3 linked regions of the Homo sapiens genome follow. The protein of the gene in region 3 interacts with the protein of the main gene of each other region in a biochemical or structural test. Each region holds a gene or a part of one and is shown on either strand. Other genes may lie near its edges. The genes, in order: USP5, HPD and STK33.

Region 1 (6,732 bases), on a different chromosome or scaffold from region 3:
GCTGTTTCCAGGTTGGGGAAAGCGGTAGGATGGCTCCTCACTCCCAAATCGCTCAGCCTGTTTGGCACGGGCTCGGTCCCTTCCGTGGAAGGCGGGAGTCGTTCAGGTTGCCGAAGGGAAGGGGTCAGATCTGGGGCTCAGGGAGCCCGAGCAGCTCGGCGCGGGGACGCGGACGCCGGCGAGGAAGGGGAGGAGTCTGGGGCTACGTGCGGCGGCGCACGGCGCGGGAGGCCAGGGCGCAGGGAGCGGGAAGCCCACGCGGCCCAGCCTCCCCCGGTCTCCCGCAGAGCCTCGGGCTCCGCTCCTAACCCCGTCGCCTGGCGGGCACAGCCCCAGTGCGCGCCCCGGGGCCACCTTCCTCCAGGAGACCCAAAACGTCCTTACCTGCCCCATAGTCCAAGGGGCATCATGTGCTCCGCCCTGCCCCCTCGACGCACCGACGGGGCTGCGGCTGCGAGGCCCCTGCCCGGACCCCAGCGGCCCTCGTCCCACAGCCCTGCATCAGGTCCGCGCGGATACCGGCCTCGGGGCCTCGGGGCCTCGGGAGAGGGCGCTGCCACTCCTGCCCCGGCCCCGGCCCCGGCCCGGCCAGACCCCTCCTCGGCGAGGGCTTACCGGTGTCGGCCGGCACCTTGGCCGCGTTCAGAGTGCCGATGAGCTCCCCCAGACTCTGCTTCCGCCCGTTCATCTTCCAGTTTCCCCCAACGAAGAACTTCCTGGAGGGCGCCATGGCGCTGGAGCCGAGGCGCTGAAGGTCAGTGTCTGCGCGCAGTCGCGGCCACTGCCCACTTATATAGAGCGCCGCGAAGTGGAACTCCGCCTCCTCGCCGTCCTCCGCCATGGCCCGCCCAGTCCCCCGGAGCCCTGCCCCCCGCCCGCCCTCCTGCCGCCGCCCCGGCCGCCGCCCGATGATGCACTGTTCCGACGTTCCCCCTTCTTGTGGCAACGTTCTAGGAGAGTCGGGGGCTCGGTCGCCTCCGCCTCGATTGCGGGGCTTTCGGGACAAGGCGAGACCTGTGAGCTCCGGCGCTCAGGGGAACCCTCGCTTGGCGACTTGAGTCCCCCACGGGGCCAGAAGTGGTTTTCAAGCGGAACTAGCTGGTGGCAACTTGGCCGTAGCCCAGATCGCCCACTGGGGCAGAGAGGGCCCCTCTCCAACTGTGGGATAGACAACCTCCTTCGCCCATCGGAGCAGCTCATGCCCGACTGCTGAGCAGGCACCCTTGTACCCAGGGAGTCTACCTGAGTGAAAACTTGCGGGACAAATGCAGGGTTCACAGCGGGAGGGGCAGCCCACACAGGCATAGGCCGCCAGGATCATCCCAACCCTCGCCCCGGCTGGCAAGGCCTGGCAGGAACTGCAGGGACTGAGTCCCAGCCTGAAGCCAGCTAGCCAGTTAGGGACATTTGGGAAATCCTCCACTCCTGTGTGAATAAAGAGAGGGAAGGGTTCTTCACTCCATCTTTCCTTGGCTTTGTGTCGGCATTTAGTCACTCTACTCCACCTCCCCACCCAACCCCAATTTTCCTAGAGCTCTAGAACCAGTGAAAAGTGGAGACTTGACTTTGGCAGGGAGGCGGCCAGAGTTAGGAGTTTTCTTAAGCGCCCTCCTGCTAACCCCAGGAAGGTAAGCCTCTCCCCCAAGGTATCAAACAGGACACAATTTAGCCGTTGTACTTTTATTCACATCGTGTATTTTGGCATTTTCCAGAGAAGGACAAGGAAGAGACAGGGTGGGGGAAAGACTGAGGCAGGAGGGCAAGTCGGGGGGTCCCTATTTCCCTCACATCCCTCCTTGACCAACCACACAGGGGCAAACAAAGGGGGAGGGGAGGCACAGGTGATCGCTCCACTGGGAGAGGATGCACAAAGCTACACCCACGCGCACAAACGAGACCCCTCCCTCCACACCAGGGGGCTGGGCGGGGCGACACAGAGAAGCAGAGCACTGTGGATTCCGGGGGCAGGGGAAGCAACAAAGTCTCCTTACAGACAGGTGGCCGGCCCCTCCCGTCCCCGTCCTGCTCCATCCCCAGAGTCTATCGCTGCCCCTCTGCTCTGCCCAGCCATTCTCCCACGGCCTCCAGCTTCTTCCCTGCTGCCGGGGACAAAAGGAAAAAGGGTACAGAGCAGAGGGGCTGAAGTCCATCCCTCAGCCCCTCTCCCTCATGCCAGGTGGTCTTCCCCTGCCCTCATTGGTAAGGGGTGAGGCAGGCTCTTAGCTGGCCACTCTCTGGTAGAAGTAGATGTAGCCCAGGTCCTTGGGCGGCTTCTCGGAGGCACACACTTTCTGGTCATTGTAGATCACCCATCTGGGGAAGTGGGGAAAACAGAAAAGGATGAACAAACTGGGCATTCAAAGTGGCATCATGTAGTCTCTCAGACATGGCCCCTGGAAGTGCTCTCCACACTCTCTGCCCATACCCCAAATCCACAGCCCAGCCACCATGTGCCTTAAGGGAGCTTCACAACCTCACAAGGGTCACGGACCCTATTATGTCTTCAGATCCTCCAGTACCTTTACAACCACCCTCCACCCATTCCAGGGAGGCAGGGGGTTGGTAAACTTTTTCTGGCAAGGGCCAGATAGTATTTGAGGTTCTGCAGGCTCTCTCTCTGGTCTCTGACACAACGACTCAACTTTCCTGCCGCAGCGTGAAAACAGGCACAAACAACACATAAACAAGTGTGTCCAGGTTCCAGTGAAAATTTATTTACAAAGGCAGGGGGCCTGGCCAGGCACGGTAGCTCATGCCTGTAATCCTAGCACTTTGGGAGGCCGAGGCAGAAGGATCACTTGAGCTCAGGAGTTCAAGACCAGCCTGGGCAACATAGTGAGATCCCATCTCTATTTAAAAAAAAAGCTGGTGGCCAGATCCAACCCTTGGGCCAATCACTGCTGCAAGACCTTCTGTCACTCTCTGGCACTTTATGTCCCCATCAGGCAGTCCCTTCACCTTCTCCCATAGCTATCCCAAGGACTTCCAAATGGCCCTCCTCATTCCCACCACCATTCTCCATTCAAAACGCATGTGGCCAGCACTCACCTGCCTTCTTTCTTGATGTGGCAGACGTAGTGACCACACATGGTAGAGGTGCCCATGTGACTAATGAAGGCAAAGAGCTGATACTCTAGGAAAGGAGAGAGGGGGTCAGAGAAGGAAACAGAAGAGGAATGCTTGAGTGATGGCCCAAAGATCCAGACAACAGCTCAGACTCAGGACAGGAGTTTCAGGGAATGTGAGGCAGGTACTGGGCCAGAGCCTGTCTCCATGTCAGAGAACCCCACCCTCAGATGCCACGTTGAGGTGGAAAGAAGCCCCTGACTCCTGAGGAGGGCAGAGCTGCCTGAATGAGGGATCTGGTGTAGTAGACTGACCAGATTCCACCAGGCCTGTCCTGCTTCCTGGGGATACTCACTTCCAGGACCATCCCGGACTTTAGGTCCCACTGGCACAGACTCAGAGATGGAGTCGGCAGCTGAGCGGCCCTCTGAGATGTCCATGGCAGCTTCAGCATCCAGGTCGTCAATGTGACTGAAGATCCAGTCCACAGCCCGTTCTAAACTATTGTTCTTGGAGAGGAAGGAAGCATTACTTTTTTTCTTGAGACGGAGTCTTGCTCTGTCGCCCAGGCTGGAGTGCAGTGGCGCGATCTCGGCTCACTGCAAGCTCCGCCTCCCGGGTTCACGCCTTTCTCCTGCCTCAGCCTCCCAAGTAGCTGGGACTACAGACGCCCACCACCACGCTTGGTTAATTTTTTGTATTTTTCGTAGAGACGGGGTTTCACCGTGTTAGCCAGGATGGTCTTGATCTGCTGACCGCGTGATCCGCCCACCTCACCCTCCCAAAGTGCTGGGATTACAGGCGTGAGCCACCGCGCCCGGCCAAACAGAAGCATTACATTTTTAACAAGTTCTGGGGCAAAAAACCCAGCAGTGAACGCAGGCTTCAGCTCCTTCATCGCAGCCACAAAAGAGTGGTGCCCAACCTCGGCCAGACCACACCTGTTGTCTTTGGTCTTGCTCAAGAAGGATGGCCCCTCATTCCCACCCCCTTCTTCCCCACTGGCCCCATGTCCTTAGCTGGGGCAGCCCATACCGTGGCCCGCAGCGCTTTCAAGGCCTGGTCCCGGGAGAAGCCCATGGAGACAATGGTGGTCACACAGTCCTCAGGAGGGGGGTCGGCTGCTGCGCTTGTGGAGCCCGGCCCACTAGAGCCAGGCAGGATGAGGGGGTTTGCAAAATCTGTGGATGTGAAGGGGTTGATGTGTTTGGGGGAGGATGGAGGCCCTGCCCCACCCTGCTCCCCACCCCAGCCTACCTGGATCATCCATGTGTGACATGACCCAGTTCATGGCGGCCTCAGCCCCGCTGTTGCCCGTGTAGTAGACAGCTTTGCGGCAGGCGTCCATAGGGAATCCCATCTCCACCAGCTGGATGATGACTGATTCATCCAGCATGGGCGCTGTAATGGGAATTGTGGGTACACGGACCGACTGATTGGGCCACTGTTTGCTCCTCCTCCCTCCCCCAGGACCCAGCCCTCTTCCAATCACCCATTCCATGCATTTTTCTCCCATGGATTGGCACCTTATCCCAAAACCAAAATGACCACACAATTGTAATGTGGGTCCCTGCCCATTCTCACAGAATGGGCCCTGTTTCTGGAGCATGATACCCCCACCCTACCCAAACCAGGGAGGTAACAAGGGCAGAGAGGCCACTAGCTGGCACTGCTGCCATCCACACCCAGAAGGTGGCTAGGAGTGCGCTGGGGAGGCCCCATGTCAATCAAAGAGGGCAGAGGAAATTTGAAAGGGAGGACAGGAGAAACACAAAGGACAGGGGCAGGGGATGCAAGGCAGAGAGGCCCCCATCAGCACGGGAGAGAGACAGGCAGGAAGAAGAGTCACTAACATGTCGGAGAGGAGAAGTGAGGGGAGCAGAAGGAGTCTTCGTCTTCGTTGCCATAGAAACCAAGGCTACCTTTGGGCTCATCCGGAGTGACCAGGGGTGGGGCAATGTCTGGCAGCTCCTCCTCTCCGGGCTGCAGCCCTGTGCCCCTCAACTGGGAGATGTCGAGCTCCTCTGGCATCTCGATGGACACATCTGTGGGAAAAGGGTCACCTCAGCAGCTCCCGGAGGCCTACCTGGAAAGTGATTCGGGAACCTCAATCCCCTGCCCCCTATGTCAGAACTGCTCTGTAAAGAGGAGCTGCTAAAAGCACGGCACCCATCTTAGGGGTCCCAGTATAAGACAAATAATACTAAGCCTGGGAGTTGGGAGGCCAGGATGCTGGTCCTAGATCTACCATAAATAATCTATGGACAGGGCAGGGGGCCTAGAACTTGTGAGACAGAATGATTTTATATTCCTGTGAGTCTCAACTTCCTTATCTAGAAAATGAAGGTACATCACGAGTTCTCAAATGACAGTCAGGGACCTGTAAGACTCACGAGAATTAATTGTTTCAAGATTATCAAAATGAAAACATTTTACCAATTATTTTAAAAAACTACAAAAATCACTTTTGGTTGTAAATCATACCTATAACAATCAAAGAAGTCTTTTAATATTTTTAGTTAGTGCTTTCAAACTAGATAAATTTTGAAACATTGAAGGTGATTTTTTTTCCTCTTTCAGAGGAAACTTTGAGAAACACTAGTTTATATGTGTTAAAGCCCCTTCTTTTTCTAGCATTTTCTGTGTAACCTCCCTCATTCCAGCAGCCATACCCAGTTTCTTGGGCACCCAGTCTAAGCCGAAGGTGAACTTCTTGATCTGGATGACCAGGTAGTCAGGGAATGAGGCAAATCGTGTGGTCCTAGGGAAGAGAGACTGTGCTGGTACCCAGACAATCCCCAGGGTTTTCCTCTCCTGAAACTCCCACCTGGGGTTCAGCCCCTCATGGGTAGAAGTCCCAATAACCCAGAAGATCCTCCATATTCTTCTCTTCCCCTGGGCAGGTGTCTGATGCCTGTCCTCGGCCAACGAGGAGCAGTAGAGGCCAGAAGGAAGGCTGTCAACAAAAAAAAGAAAAAGAAAAAAGCCCAGGCATGGTGGCTCATATCTGTAATTCCAGCACTTTGGGAGGCCAAGGCAGGACGACTGCTTGAGCCCAGGAGTTAAGAGACCAACCTGGGCAACATAGCAAGACCCACACGTAGGGAAAAAAACATAGCAAGACCCACACATAGAAAAAAAAAAAAAACCCACACAGAGAGGAAGAGCTGTTTCACTGGCAGGAGCAGCAAAGGGCTGGGTAGCTGACTCCCCGAGACCAAAGCCCTTTTTCAGGTCTCACACCCATGCCAGGTGCCAATGGCTAGGCTCAAAGTGTGGCTATTTGCTGGAAATCCAAATTCTGCCCACAGCTGATCCTAAGTGCCTGTGCTCAGCCATGACTGAGGGGCAATGAAGAGAGGCTACACTACAAAGAGACCCTGTGCCACAGAAGAGGGAGTGGTTGGGGCAGGACAAGGTGACAGATAGAGTCAGTACCCGTGTCCCCCCTACCAGGGCCCCTTGGTTCCATCAGGGCCAGATTACCAGCCCAACTGATTCAACCCTGAGGTTCCAACCACAAAGGGATGAAAGAACAGGGAAGAGACAGAAGTATCCTCTGGGATAGCTCTGCCATAGACCCACAGCCTCAGGCCCCGACCAGAGGACTTACTTGACAGCTACTGACTTGGCCTGCAGGGCCGTGCTCCAGAAGTCATCGACCTG
Region 2 (4,582 bases), on a different chromosome or scaffold from region 3:
TTTTTTTAAGGTGTACAATTCTATGATTTCTAGCTATTTGCTATGTTGTGCAACTATCATCAAAATCCATTTTAGGACTGGGTGTGGTGGTTCATGCTTGTAATCTCAGTACTTTGGGAGGCCGAGGCGGGCGGATCATGAGGTCAGGAGTTCGAGACCAGCCTGACCAACATGGTGAAACCCTGCCTCTACTAAAAATACAAAAATTAGCCAGGCGTGGTGACACATGCCTGTAATCCCAGCTACTCAGGAGGCTGAGGCAGGAGAATCACTTGAACCCGGGAGGCGGAGGTTGCAGTGAGCCGAGATTGCGCTACTACATTCCAGCCTGGGCGACACAGTGAGACTCTGTCTCAAAAAAAAAAAAAAAAAAAAAAAAGATCCATTTTAGGACTAGGTATGGTGGTTCATGCCTGTAATCCCAGCACTTTGGGAGGCCAAGGCAGGTGGATCACTTGAGGTCAGGAGTTTGAGACCAGCCTGGTCAATATGGCGAAACCCCCATCTCTACAAAAAGAAAAAAAAAAATTAGCTGTGCGTGGTGATCTGTGTCTGTGGTCCCAGCTACTGGGGAGGCTGAAGTGGGAGAATCACTTCAACCCAGGAGGTAGAGGCTACAGTGAGCCATCATCAGGCCACTGCACTCCAGCCTGGGTGATACCCTGTCTAAAAGAAAAACAAAAACAGTTAGGCCAGACACAGTGGCTCACACCTATAATCCCAGCATTTTGGGAGGTTGAAGTGAGAGGATTGCTTGAGGCCAGGAGTTTAAGACCAGCCTGAGAAACACAGGGCGACCCTGTATCTACAAAAAAAACAGTTTTAAAAAATTAGCTGGGCATGGTGGTTCGTGCCTGTAGTCCCAGCTACTCAGGAGGCTGAGGTGAGAGGATCACTTGAGGCCAGGAGGTCAAAGCTGCAGTGAGCCATGATCAGGCTACTGCATTCCAGCCTGGGCAAAAAATCAATTTTAGAACATTTTTGTCACCCCAAAAAGAAACCTTGAGCCTCTTAGCCAGCACCTCCCAACCCCCTCTGTTCCCTTCCCCCCTCCCACCCCAGCCCTAGGCACCATTAATCTACCTTCAGTCTCTATAGATTTGCCTATTCTGGACATTTCATCAAAAGGAATCACAAAGTCCAGGCACGGTGGCTCATGCCTGTAATCCCAGCACTTTGGGAGGCTGAGGTGGGCGGATCATGAGGTCAGGAGTTCAAGACCAGCCTGGCCAACATGGTGAAACCCTGTCTCTACTAAAAATACAAAAATTAGCTGGGTGTGATAGCAGATGCCTGTAATCCCAGCTACTGGGGAGCCTGAGGCCGGAGAATTGCTTGAACCCAGGGAAGGGGAGGTTGCAGTGAGCCGAGATCGCGCCATTGCACTCCAGCCTGGGCGACAGAGTGAAACTCCATCTCGGAAAAAAAAAAAAAGGAATCACAAAATAGGCCTATTGTGAGCAGCTTCTTTCCCATAGCATGTGCTCAAGGTTCATCTGCGTGGGGTGTGTGTCAGTGCTTCGTTCCTTTTTGTGGCTGAAAAATATCCCATTGTATAGATAGACACACATTGTTTATCTATTCCTCGTTGATAGATATTTGGGTTGTTTCCACTTTTGGGGTGTTATACGTAATGCTACTGTGAACATCTATGTACAAGGCTCTGTGTGGACGTGTTTTCAATGCACTTTGGAATATATCTAGGAGTAGCTAGGTCACATGGTAATTCCATGTTCCCTTTTGTTTGTTTAGAGATGGAGTCTTGCTTTGTTTCCCAGGCTGGGGTGCAGTGGTGCGATCTTGGCCCATTGCAACCTCCAGCCTCCTGGGTTCAAGCAATTCTCCTGCCTCAGCCTCCCCAGTAGCTGGGATTATAGGCGCCCGCCACCACGCCCAGCTAATTTTTTTTTTTTTTTTTTTGAGACAGAGTCTTGCTCTGTTGCCCAGGCTGGAGAGCAGTGGCCGATCTTGGCTCACTGCAACCTCCACTTCCCGGGTTCAAGCGATTCTCCTGCCTCTGCCTCCTGAGTAGCTGGGATAACAGGCGTGTGCCACCATGCCCAGCCAATTTATTTTTATTTTTATTTTTAGTAGAGATGGGGTTTCACCATGTTGGCCAGGCTGGTCTCGAACTCCTGACCTCGGGTGATTCACTCACCTCAGCCTCCCAGAGTGCTGGGATTACAGGCGTGAGCCACCTTGCCCAGCCTAATTTTTGTATTTTTTTTTGTAGTGACTGGGTTTCCCCATGTTGGCCAGGCTGGTCTCGAACTGAGCTCAGGTGATCCACCTGCCTCGGCCTCCCAAAGTGAGCCACCATGCCTGGCCACCCCCTTTTTTTTTTTTAATCCGTATTTTAAGGAAGCAACACTATATGTTTAACTTTTTGAGAAGCTGCCAGACTGTTTTCCAAAGTGGTTGCACCATTTTACAGTCCCACCAGCAGTACATGAGGGTTCCGATTTCCACTGGAGGATTTTAAACAGGGGAATGACATGATCCGACTTTTAAAAGATCCCGCAGCAGGTCATGGTGGCTCACGCCTGTAATCCCAACACTTTGGGAGGTCGAGGTGGGTGGATCACCTGAGGTCAGGAGTTCGAGACCAGCCTGACCAATATCGTGAAACCCCGTCTTACTAAAAATACAAAAATTAGCCGGGCATGGTAGCCTGCGCCTGTAGTCCCAGCTACTCGGGAGGCTGAGACAGGAGAATCGCTTGAACCCGGAAGGCGGAGGTTTCAGTGAGCCAAGATTGCGCCACCGCACTCCAGCCTGGGTAACAGCGCAAGGCTCCGTCTCAAAAAAGAAAAAGAAAGTGTCCTGATAATGTCTGCGGGGAGGATGGATTGTAAGGATACAAGATTAGAAGCGGGCAGCAGTCTTGAATGGTGCCTTAGGAACTGTAGTAGGGGGATAGTAATAGGACAGTTTGGGGATATATTTGGAGGTGGCTGAACTGCCAGAAAAAGAGGTCATTTCCAGACTTTTGGGGTGCAGGAGCCCCTGTGGACTTTCCAAGGATCTCACCGTGCCAGCCTCCCCTAGCAGAGCCCCCTGTCTCCCGCCTAGGAGCTGAAAATCCTGGTGGACTACGACGAGAAAGGCTACCTCCTGCAGATCTTCACCAAACCGGTGCAGGACCGGCCCACGCTCTTCCTGGAAGTCATCCAGCGCCACAACCACCAGGTACTGCTTGTCCCCGGCAGGCCCGAGGGGACAGGCAGCTAGCACACTCGGTTTTCTGGGTCCTTGGCTCATCTCCTCTCTTTCCCGCCACAGGGTTTTGGAGCCGGCAACTTCAACTCACTGTTCAAGGCTTTCGAGGAGGAGCAGAACCTGCGGGGTAACCTCACCAACATGGAGACCAATGGGGTGGTGCCCGGCATGTAAGCCCCGCCCACCCCACGGAGGCCACAGCCACACAGCCACGCCCCCTGATTCTGGAACTCGCCCAACTTCCCTACTGGCTGCTCCCCTTGGGTCCCGCCCACCAGCGGACTCGGCCCCCAAGGCTCCGCCCACACTGACCACGCCCCTCGGCGGGGCCGCCCTCTGCTCCAGCCCTCCCGATTAAAGCGTGCCCCGGTCCAATACTGTGTCTGTGTTTGTGTTGCGCATAAGGCAGTAGTGCCTTATGGCAGCCAGGGGGAGGCCAGGGCGGCCGCCAGCGCCGCGGGACCGAGGAGCTGCGGGTGCCAGCGCTTTGCCAGCGGGACCACGCGGAGAGGGGAATTCTGGAACCAGGGAAGGAAGGGGACTTGCTCTGGAGGGAAAGACGGATGACACTGCTTTTGTAGAGAGATAAACGCGATTCAGACAATAAAGCAAGCGATGAGCCGGGCGTGGTGGCTCACACCTGTAATTTCAGCGCTTTGGGAGGCAGAGGTGGGAGGATCGCTTGAGGCCAGGAGTTCGAGCCCAGCCCGGTAACATAGCAAGACCCCGACCCCCCTGCGTCTACACAAATAACAAATAAAAATTAGCCTGGCGTAGTGGCGCACACCTGTGGTCCCAGCTACTCAGGAGGCTGAGGTGGGAGGATCGATTGATGGACAGAGGTCTAAGCTGCAGCGAGCCCTGATCCTGACACTGCACTCCAGCCTGGGCAAGAGTGAGACCCTGTCTCAAAAAAAAAAAAGGCAGTTGATGAGAATATGTGGAAGCGAAGATCGCAGGGGAGCTAATTTTGATAACGGAAGACCTCTCCGAGAAGGTGACATTTGGGAGCCAGCCATGGGACCATGCTCGGGAAAAGGATTCCAGGAAGAGCGAACGGAGAAAGGCCCTGAGGTGGGGTCAGAGTTTGGCAGCATCTTGTCTGCCGGCTTGATGATCTCTTTTTGTTGTTGTTGAGACGGAGTTTCGCTCTGTCCCCCAGGCTGGAGTGCAGTGGTGCGATCTCGGCTCACTGCAAGCTCCGCCTCCCGGGTTCACGCCATTCTCCTGCCTCAGCCTCCCGAGTAGCTGGGACTACAGGCGCCCGCCACCACGCCCGGCTAATTTTTTGTATTTTTAGCAGAGACGGAGTTTCACCTTGTTAGCCAGGATGGTCTCGGCCTCCCAAAGTGCTGGGATTACA
Region 3 (8,749 bases):
CCAGGCTAGAGTGCAGTGGTGCGATCTCAGCTCACTGCAACCTCTGCCTCCTGGGTTCAAACGATTTTCCAACCTCAGCCTCCTGAGTAGCTGGGACTACAGGAGCACACCACCACGACTGGCTAATTTTTGTATTTTTTGTAGAGACGGGGTTTCACCATATTGGCCAGGCTGATCTCGAACTCCTGACTGCAAGTGATCGGCCTGCCTCCGCCTCCCAAAGTGTTGGGGTTATAGGCGTGAACCACTGTGCCTGGCCAGCTTCTGGTTGCTTATAATGGAGAGGGAGAAAAGACTGATATCAACAGGGAAGAATCAGGGAGAGGGTTTCCTGGTTTATCCACTGTCTCTAAACTGCAATTTCTGTTCTCGCTTTTTTTTTTTTTTTGAGACGGAGTCTAGCTCTGTTGCCAGGCTGGAGTGCAGTGGCATGATCTTGGCTCACTGCAATCTCCGCCTTCTGGGTTCAAGCGATTCTCCTGCCTCAGCCTCCCTAGTAGCCGGGATTACAGGTGCATGCCACCACACCCAGCTAATTTTTGTATTTTTAGTAGAGATGGGGTTTCTCTACTAAAACCCCAGGTTGGTCAGGATGTTGGCCAGGATGGTCTCGATCTGACCTTGTGATCCACCCGCCTCAGCCTGCCAAAGTGCTGGGATTACAGGCGTGAGCCACCGCACCCGGCCTCTGTTCTCGCTTTTAACTGTCAGTATAGGGGCCACATTTAAGACTGTCCTTCCGTATTACTGCTTAATCAGTGAGGAACATCATGCAAATTAAAATAGAAAGGAAAAGTTAATAGTAAACATCACTCAAACATTTAAAAAAATTCTGAAATAATGTGAATTTTAAATATACTGTAAATCCTTTTATAAGACAATACAGACTCATTTTCCTAATCATGCCCTTAATGAAAAGAATAAACAAGTGCTAGTCTTCCTTAAAATATAGCAATATCATCTAGAAAACTCACTGGGCCCTTCTTTAGGCTTTGTAAACATGTTACTAAAGCAGTCAGTCATTTGGCTTGGTCTGCAGAATGTCAGACAATTCGTAAGTTTTTTTTTTTTTCCCCTTTACTTGAATAAAACACATTTTGACTGAATTGACTATTTAGGTTTCTTGTAGACACAGTCTTAGCAAAGAAAACTAAAAAAATTGCTTTTGGAGAAGAAAATTATAGCTAGTTATATCTTATAAAACCATTCTTGTGTTCATTTTCTTGAGGAAATTGCTGTAAGTGTATCTTCTAGGGCCAATATGTAAAAGACCTTTTTATGATTAAATTAAAGCCCAGGGATTTTCATTATCAGAATTGTTTTATTGACTTGCCTTAGTTCTAAAAATAAAATGAAAACCTTAAGCCAAAGGAAGGCTCATGTATTAGTTAAGTACTGACATAATTTGAACTTATTTTATTTGCTTATATTATGTCCAGTACCTATGTATGTCCAATCTTTGGAGACACAAAGAAACATTATTGTATTAGAAGATTCTTTGGTTTTTGTAATACATATTTTTATATCTAAAGTCCTGTTTAAACATAATTCCATGATTCTATAGAAAAAGAGCTATTAATCTTTGTGTTTACATAAGTTTGCAATACTTGATTAATTTTAAGCCTCTAAAATATGAGTGACATCATTTGTCCTGTGAAATAGTAGATTTGTTTTAGTAACAAATCTTTCAGATCAATTCGTAAATGAGAAAGAAATAAATGTGAGTAAACATTTGTTCTATCTTGGTTTTTGTTTAAACTAAAATAATTAGAATTCAGCCAGCCAAAAAGAAGTTAAATTTGAAATCTAATTCTTGTCAAGAAATTTTGCATGCAGCTATTCAACCTGTTGTTTTAGAATTGCTGTGGTAAGAAAGTAGAACATTATTTTGGCAAATATAGCACTTGGTAGACTGGAGAGCAAAAATGAAACTTCTCAGTGAGTAATAGAAAGAAATCCTATGCTTTATGCATATAGCTACCAAGTACTTCTAAGGCAACTGATAAATTAGAAGACTGGAGCGAGAAAGTACTCAGAAGTCTGTGACAATGTCAGTGATATGATAATGACTTATTGAAAAATTGATGAAAATTAAAGGAAATGCTTTCTGAACAAAGCTAAGAAAAGAATAGCTGTTTTTAGATCCCCCAAAATCTATCTTAAAATGAAAATTTTAATATTTAAAGATTCCATTGAAAATTTGTGAATATATATATTTGTAAACCTTGAAGGATATGGTAAGTATGCTTTTAGGAGTACTGTTTATCATGAAAGAACTCAGCTGCAGTTAAATAAACCTGTACGTTACGAATACTTCTTACAATTTCTTATAAAAAGTACCATAAAATCAATATTCTTAATGTATGCAAAAAATGATGTTTTACACATCTGACATGGGACTTCTCTACACCTCAGAGAGAAAGCACTATTTTTCCCAAACAGAAAGCCTATCATTTGCAGATCTACTCCACTGCTCTGAGTCATTGATGGTTATGGGTTTTATATTTAACCTGAAATGCAAAACATTTTCTTCTAGGCCTGAAGTTAAATCATTTTGGAAAGTGATACAGGTACATTCTGAATTTTCTTTGTCTTGCTACATATTCTTGAAAAACCAGGTTAAGTGTTTATAAGAGATGTGTATGTGTGTGTGTGTGTGTGTGTGTGTGTGTGTGTGTGTATTTTGAGTGGCATCAGTTGCATTCTTTTCTTCCTCTGCCTGTCTGGAGGGCACTTTTAATGTACCTGTCCTCATACTCTCCATTATGAGTTTTAATCACAATAGAAATTTTTTTCCCACCACTTTGATGAAAGGTCATATTTATTGGGCAGACTTATCTATTCTATTTAATAATCTTATAATATACTATATACATTACCTGGGGTAAATGTAAGTACAGCATTTAGGATTTTAAAATCTATTTACAAATGAGACTGACCTGTAAATCCCCCTTTTGGGGAATACTACTATGGTCAGATTTTGGTTATTTTAAGTGAATAAAATGAACCGGATGGCTTTGCATGCTCTGAAACCATTTATATAAGAATCATCTGTTCAATAAAAGTAGGAGAGGACTCTGCTATGAAACTTCCTGAGTGAAATGATAAGTGGCATGAAGAAAAACAAAGCAAGGTAAGGGGGGAGAGGGCATGGGCTTGTTGTTTTAGATGAGGTGGTTAGGAAAGCCTTTCAAATGAGCAGAAGCCACAGTGAAGCATGGGAGCAGACCGTGTGAATGTTTGAGGGAAGAGCATCCCAGGCAGAGGAAGCAGAAGGGCAAAGCCTTGAGAAGGGAGTATACTTGGCATATTAGAGGAGCAGCAAGAGGCTACTGTATCTGAGAGAAAGGAGATATGAAAGCTGAGAGGTAGTGAAGAGTACGTTTATTTGGGACCGTATAGGCAAAATTCAACAAAATTTCTTTGTCATTTCTGTTTCTTAAGCTTACTCTTTAATTATGTTTTTCTATCTTTTAGATTTGACTGCACACTTAGTATATTTTTATCCTTTCTCCTCTGATTTTAATAAAGGTTTAAGAATATAAATTTTCTTTTAAGTGCAGCTTTGCCTGCATTCTGTTAAGCTTAATGGCCATAAGTCACATGGCTACCCCTAATCTAAAAGAGAAGCCCGGAAATGTAGGATGTTAATGAGCACATTGCTGCCCCAAAGAAGATCAGGATTCTGTTAGTAAGAAAGAATGAGAGGACAACTTTTAGGTAAACTACTAGCAATATCTTTTATAAAATCGTATGAGCCTGGCAGATTTTCCTGCCAATCACAATAGATAAGGATTTGATAAAAGCACAGCTTTCTGATTAGAAAACCAGGTATTTCTTTAATGAAATAAATATATTTAATTTCCTATTCTAGTCAAGTTTATTCCAGTTCAAAGGATAACAGTATATTGCATATATCCCCAGGTTTATCAATCTATGACTACAGAATCTACTTTTAAAGACTGTCTGAAATGGTATAGCATAAAACCATAATAATGTACTCCCAATTACTTCTGGAAGTTTCTCAAAGTACTCCTTTATATGTACTGCAGAGTGTATTTTTCTTCCTCCTCAACTGAGATCTTTCCAACTTGCCACCATGCAGCTGCCAATGGTCCTAGTTAAGTAAAATGCTGCCATACCTATTTTAGACTCAGGGAAAAATAGCACCCACTCATTTTTATTTTTGCTCAATATAAAAATGAGGATACTTATGAGGATACTTAAACTTTTAGGATTAGCTAGTTTTCTAAAAATCGAATTATTCACTCCTTTGTAAAGTATGTAATAGGAATTTGCTCTAATAATCAATAGATTAAGGTTTAAAATTTGAAACCATAGTAATGTATGTTTAACACCAATATTTTAAGCCTTTTTAAAAACCACAACCCACATTAAGAAATACATTTCATACTGTGATCAAGTACACACGCACACACACACTCTATACATATATGTCTGTCCAATTAAAAGTTTCACAGAAATTTCCAAGGAGGTATGCTAAATATTATCTCTTTGATTCTACTTTATTTTTAAAAAGTGGTATCAACCCACAAAATGGATTTCATAACCCACTACGCAGTTTGATAAGATGCTGTTTTAGACCATGCTTTTCACCAGTTTTGTGGTCCTATTTTGTCCTTTTCATGTCTATACAGGATGCTTCTAGTGCTAGTTGCTAGCTTTTCTCTGATTTCCAGGATGGTAATAGGTTAAGAATTTCTCTAAATGGTTATTTCTTTTCTTTCTGCAGCTCTCACGTGTGAATATGTGTCTAGTGCATCCTTAACCTGAGGACTTCACCAGTTCGAAATTACAGTTTTCACCATCAACTACCTTATCCTTTTTGGCCTGGTTTTCTTCCTCAAACAGTGGAAACATTTTTAAAGTTGCTTTTGTTGCAGAGTTAAACAAATGGCTGATAGTGGCTTAGATAAAAAATCCACAAAATGCCCCGACTGTTCATCTGCTTCTCAGAAAGATGTACTTTGTGTATGTTCCAGCAAAACAAGGGTTCCTCCAGTTTTGGTGGTGGAAATGTCACAGACATCAAGCATTGGTAGTGCAGAATCTTTAATTTCACTGGAGAGAAAAAAAGAAAAAAATATCAACAGAGATATAACCTCCAGGAAAGATTTGGTAAATATCAAAGATTCCACATCTAAGCACAAGTTGACATCCCGTTCCCTAATGGTACTCCTAGCTTCATCCATATCCCATGAGTTCTTGTTAGCTAATTCATTGCCTTCATAACTATTAAACATTTCTTTCTCACAGAAGAGGTGAGTAAATTTGGTTAGTAACTTGTTATATGATGTTTCAAACCACTGCCCAAATTAATTATTTCTCAGGACATGAGGTAATTAAACACGTTATACCAACTTCTTTTTTTAATGGTTTATACAGAAATGAATTGGTTTTCAAGTTGAATTAAATCTGAATTTTTGAGTATTTTCTTCAACTGATGGAGAATTAGATTTATAGTTGTGGTTAAGTAAAGGGTAGTTATGGCTTTGTTATTTAAGTTGTGGTTGTCTAGGTGGAATATCAACTATACTTTACAAAATCAGTTTGCATTAGTTACAAATAATCTATGGCTACCCAATTGTACTGATTTCGATGTATTCATCATTTTTTTTTTTTTGAATTGGAGTTTTGCTCTTGTTGCCCTGGCTGGAGTGCAATGGCACAATCTCAGCTCATCACAACCTCTGCCTCCTAGGTTCAAGTGATTTTCCTAGCTCAACCTCCTGAGTAGCTGAGATTACAGGAATGCACCACCATGCCCAGCTAATTTTTTTGTATTTTTAGTAGAGAGGGGGTTTCTCCATGTTGGTCAGGCTGGTCTTGAACTCCCGACCTCAGGTGATCCACCCACCTTGGCCTCCCAAAGTGCTGGGATTACAGGCATGAGCCACCGTGCCCAGCCATATTCATCTTTATATAGAATAGGCAGTGTGTAAGATTGTGGTTGATACAGCACAACTTTGGAGACAGAGCAATAAGCCTAAGAAAAGTCAGGTTCCCATTCCTCAAAATTTTGCCTTCTTCATATGTTCTCCCTTGACTGTTATTTCTGATTTGTATTATCATATAGTTACTGCCATATGGATGTATCTGAGTGAGTTGTTACTATGTTATTTTCACTCAAAGCATATTTTTGAGTGGCCAATAATTTACTTATAAGCTGTTTGATAATGGTTGTTAAATTGTGAAAGGAGAGTGATTGAGAAAGCTATAAAGTTGCTTTCTTTGATTTCAGAGAATCACTAGGTAAGCTTTGATGAATCTGCTATGCTGGTTATCATGTAGACTTTCCTGGATTCAGGGGATTGGATTGAATATCTTCTTAAGGTCTCCTTTAGCCTAATGAGCCAATGAATTGCATAGGGCTTAGAATTTGAAAAAGACAGTAAACAATCTTGTGCATAGTAAACATGGCACACGTTAAAGAGTTATCAGATTATCTAAATTAGGATTCTTTGTCAACAAAGAATATTACATCTTAAAGTTTTTTTTTTTTAATTTTTTTTTTGGTCCCAGCCCTCAAGAACCTCAAATGTAGAGAGAAAAGCATCTCAGCAACAATGGGGTCGGGGCAACTTTACAGAAGGAAAAGTTCCTCACATAAGGATTGAGAATGGAGCTGCTATTGAGGTATATAGAAAGCAAATGAAGCTACTGTGAACTTTCAGGTTTCTTCTAAGTCAATGGTTAATAGGAAAAATGATTGAAAAATAAATCTCTAAGGAAAGGAAGTAAAGAAAAGAGGAAATGTACCATTTTCAAGTATGTTAACATTTTTACTAAAGAAAATACAGATTAATTATCTTCTGTTTATGGAGGACCAAGTGGATTTTAATTAAAGTGGAGAACATTTTCATTAGCTAAAATGAGGATAGTTTCATCTTCAGGTCTTGGCCGTTGCTGAAAGCAATAGTGGAGTCTTTGTTTAGACCTTTTCATGATGCAGAGATGGACCAGGTAATTTTAGTTTGGCTGTTCACTTCCTTGATAGTGAGGCCAGAATCTCCCTCATGAGCTCCTCCATCTTTTCCATCCTGCGATTGGATAAATACCAATACTATTTTTCCAGGATTCAAATTATTATATAAAATAAGAATTAAATGTTAGAACAATAAAAAAATTAAAATGTGTGTTTTTAACATTAAAGAAACTGCAATAAGAACAACCACAACAAGAAGAAAATTGTGTTAATATTACCATTTAAATTGCTTTGGGGCACCACAAATTGCACCCATATAAGATGGTATACTTAATAAATGTATATGTTCTGATTGCTCAGCTGACTGACCACTCTTCATCTCTCTCCCTCTCCTTGGGCCTCCCTAGTCCCTGATACACAAAAATATTGAAATTAGGCCAATTAATAATCCTACAGTGGTTCAAGTGAAAGGGAGAGTTGCATGTCTTTCACTTTAAATCAAAAGCTAGAAATGATCAAGCCTGATGTCAAAACTTGTTTTAAAAGATATTTGGCAACTTACTTGAAATGATTAGAAAAGCTGCCTGGCCTGAAAAACTCTGACACACACACACACAAGTTTACCAAGTTTTAAATTTAGTCTTGGGCCAGGCATGATGGCTCATGCCTGTAATCTCAGCATTTTGAAAGGCTGAGGAAGGAGGATCACTTGAGGCCAAGAGTTTGAGACCAGACTGGGCAACATAGCAAAACTCCTTCTCTAAAAAAATTTTTAAAAAATTAGCAGGATATAGAGGCATTCGGCTGTAGTCCTGGCTACTGTGGGGTGCTGAGATGTGAGTATCACTTGAGCCCAGAAGTTTGAGGCTGCAGTGAGCTATGATCATACCACTGCATTCTAGCCTGGGCGACAGAGTGAGACCTTGTCTCCAAAAACAGTAAAATAAATAAATAATAAATTTAGTCTTAAGAGCTTTTATAAAAGCAAAATATGTTCATTGTGAAAAATTAGGCAAATATAAGTGTGGAGAAAATAAAAATTATCAACCAGATATAACCAATTTAAAAATTATTAACTTCACTTTTTCTATGCATGTACTAGTTTTATTTTATTTTTCTTTAACATTTTTCCTGTTTTAAATTAGAGGATATTTCAAATATATATACATATTTTAAAGAAGTAACTTTAACTTGGTATAGTTGAAGTTGAAGCTTCTATTCCCCCATAAAATATACTCATTTTAAATATTTTAAACATTTCAGAAGAGTATAAAGAAGGAAATTACAAGCATCCACAATTCTATTACCCTTACATAGCTACTATTAATATTTAGATGAACATTTTCACAGATATCCATGTAAGCACCTCCTCACACACACATTGTCATAATGAAATCATATCTTATATGCTTTTCACACTGTACACTATGTCATGGACTTCTTCTGTGTCAGTAAAAATAGATCTACATTATCATTTTAATAACATCCTTACACAATTATTAGAAATAAGAAACTGTTTTCTCCTTCATCACTATGTGTTAATATCAAAGCAGTTAGTTGAAGAAAGTGATTAGTTTGTAAAAAACTAGTTGGCCATTTCTCATTTTAGAATTCCTATTTAAACAGTATTGAATACTGTCTTCAAATTGTGGTTCTATTTAGAGAGAAAATAAAAGTTTAACTTTTAAAGAACAAGAAAAATTGGGGAAGTGGTTATGAAGAGATTATTTTGTAAATGAGAAAAGGGTAAATGACCATTTTAGTTGAGATTTAACTCACTTTACAAAATATAGGCATACTTCA

Evidence for each region.
Region 1: the proteins of STK33 (region 3) and USP5 form a complex in vitro, tested with the Homo sapiens proteins (one study listed by BioGRID).
Region 2: of the proteins of STK33 (region 3) and HPD, one has a biochemical effect on the other in vitro, tested with the Homo sapiens proteins (one study listed by BioGRID).

What each region holds. Positions count from the first base shown.
Region 1 is NC_000012.12:6,861,565-6,868,296, reverse strand, and holds the end of USP5 (ubiquitin carboxyl-terminal hydrolase 5), read right to left. Parts: coding exon 6,680-6,732; intron 5,828-6,679; coding exon 5,739-5,827; intron 5,153-5,738; exon of another isoform or gene 5,112-5,152; coding exon 4,920-5,111; intron 4,468-4,919; coding exon 4,324-4,467; intron 4,248-4,323; coding exon 4,102-4,247; intron 3,576-4,101; coding exon 3,422-3,575; intron 3,134-3,421; coding exon 3,049-3,133; intron 2,314-3,048; coding exon 2,220-2,313; 3' UTR 1,665-2,219; downstream 1-1,664. Other genes in the region: TPI1 (triosephosphate isomerase), read right to left, coding at 616-841. UniProt on the Homo sapiens protein: Deubiquitinating enzyme that participates in a wide range of cellular processes by specifically cleaving isopeptide bonds between ubiquitin and substrate proteins or ubiquitin itself.
Region 2 is NC_000012.12:121,838,539-121,843,120, reverse strand, and holds the end of HPD (4-hydroxyphenylpyruvate dioxygenase), read left to right. Parts: intron 1-3,072; coding exon 3,073-3,189; intron 3,190-3,282; coding exon 3,283-3,393; 3' UTR 3,394-3,594; downstream 3,595-4,582. UniProt on the Homo sapiens protein: Catalyzes the conversion of 4-hydroxyphenylpyruvic acid to homogentisic acid, one of the steps in tyrosine catabolism.
Region 3 is NC_000011.10:8,471,071-8,479,819, reverse strand, and holds part of STK33 (serine/threonine-protein kinase 33), read left to right. Parts: exon of another isoform or gene 1-2,536; 5' UTR 2,537-2,570; exon of another isoform or gene 2,571-3,068; 5' UTR 3,069-3,133; intron 3,134-3,147; exon of another isoform or gene 3,148-3,720; intron 3,721-4,753; 5' UTR 4,754-4,914; coding exon 4,915-5,139; intron 5,140-6,543; coding exon 6,544-6,657; intron 6,658-8,749. UniProt on the Homo sapiens protein: Serine/threonine protein kinase required for spermatid differentiation and male fertility. Promotes sperm flagella assembly during spermatogenesis by mediating phosphorylation of fibrous sheath proteins AKAP3 and AKAP4.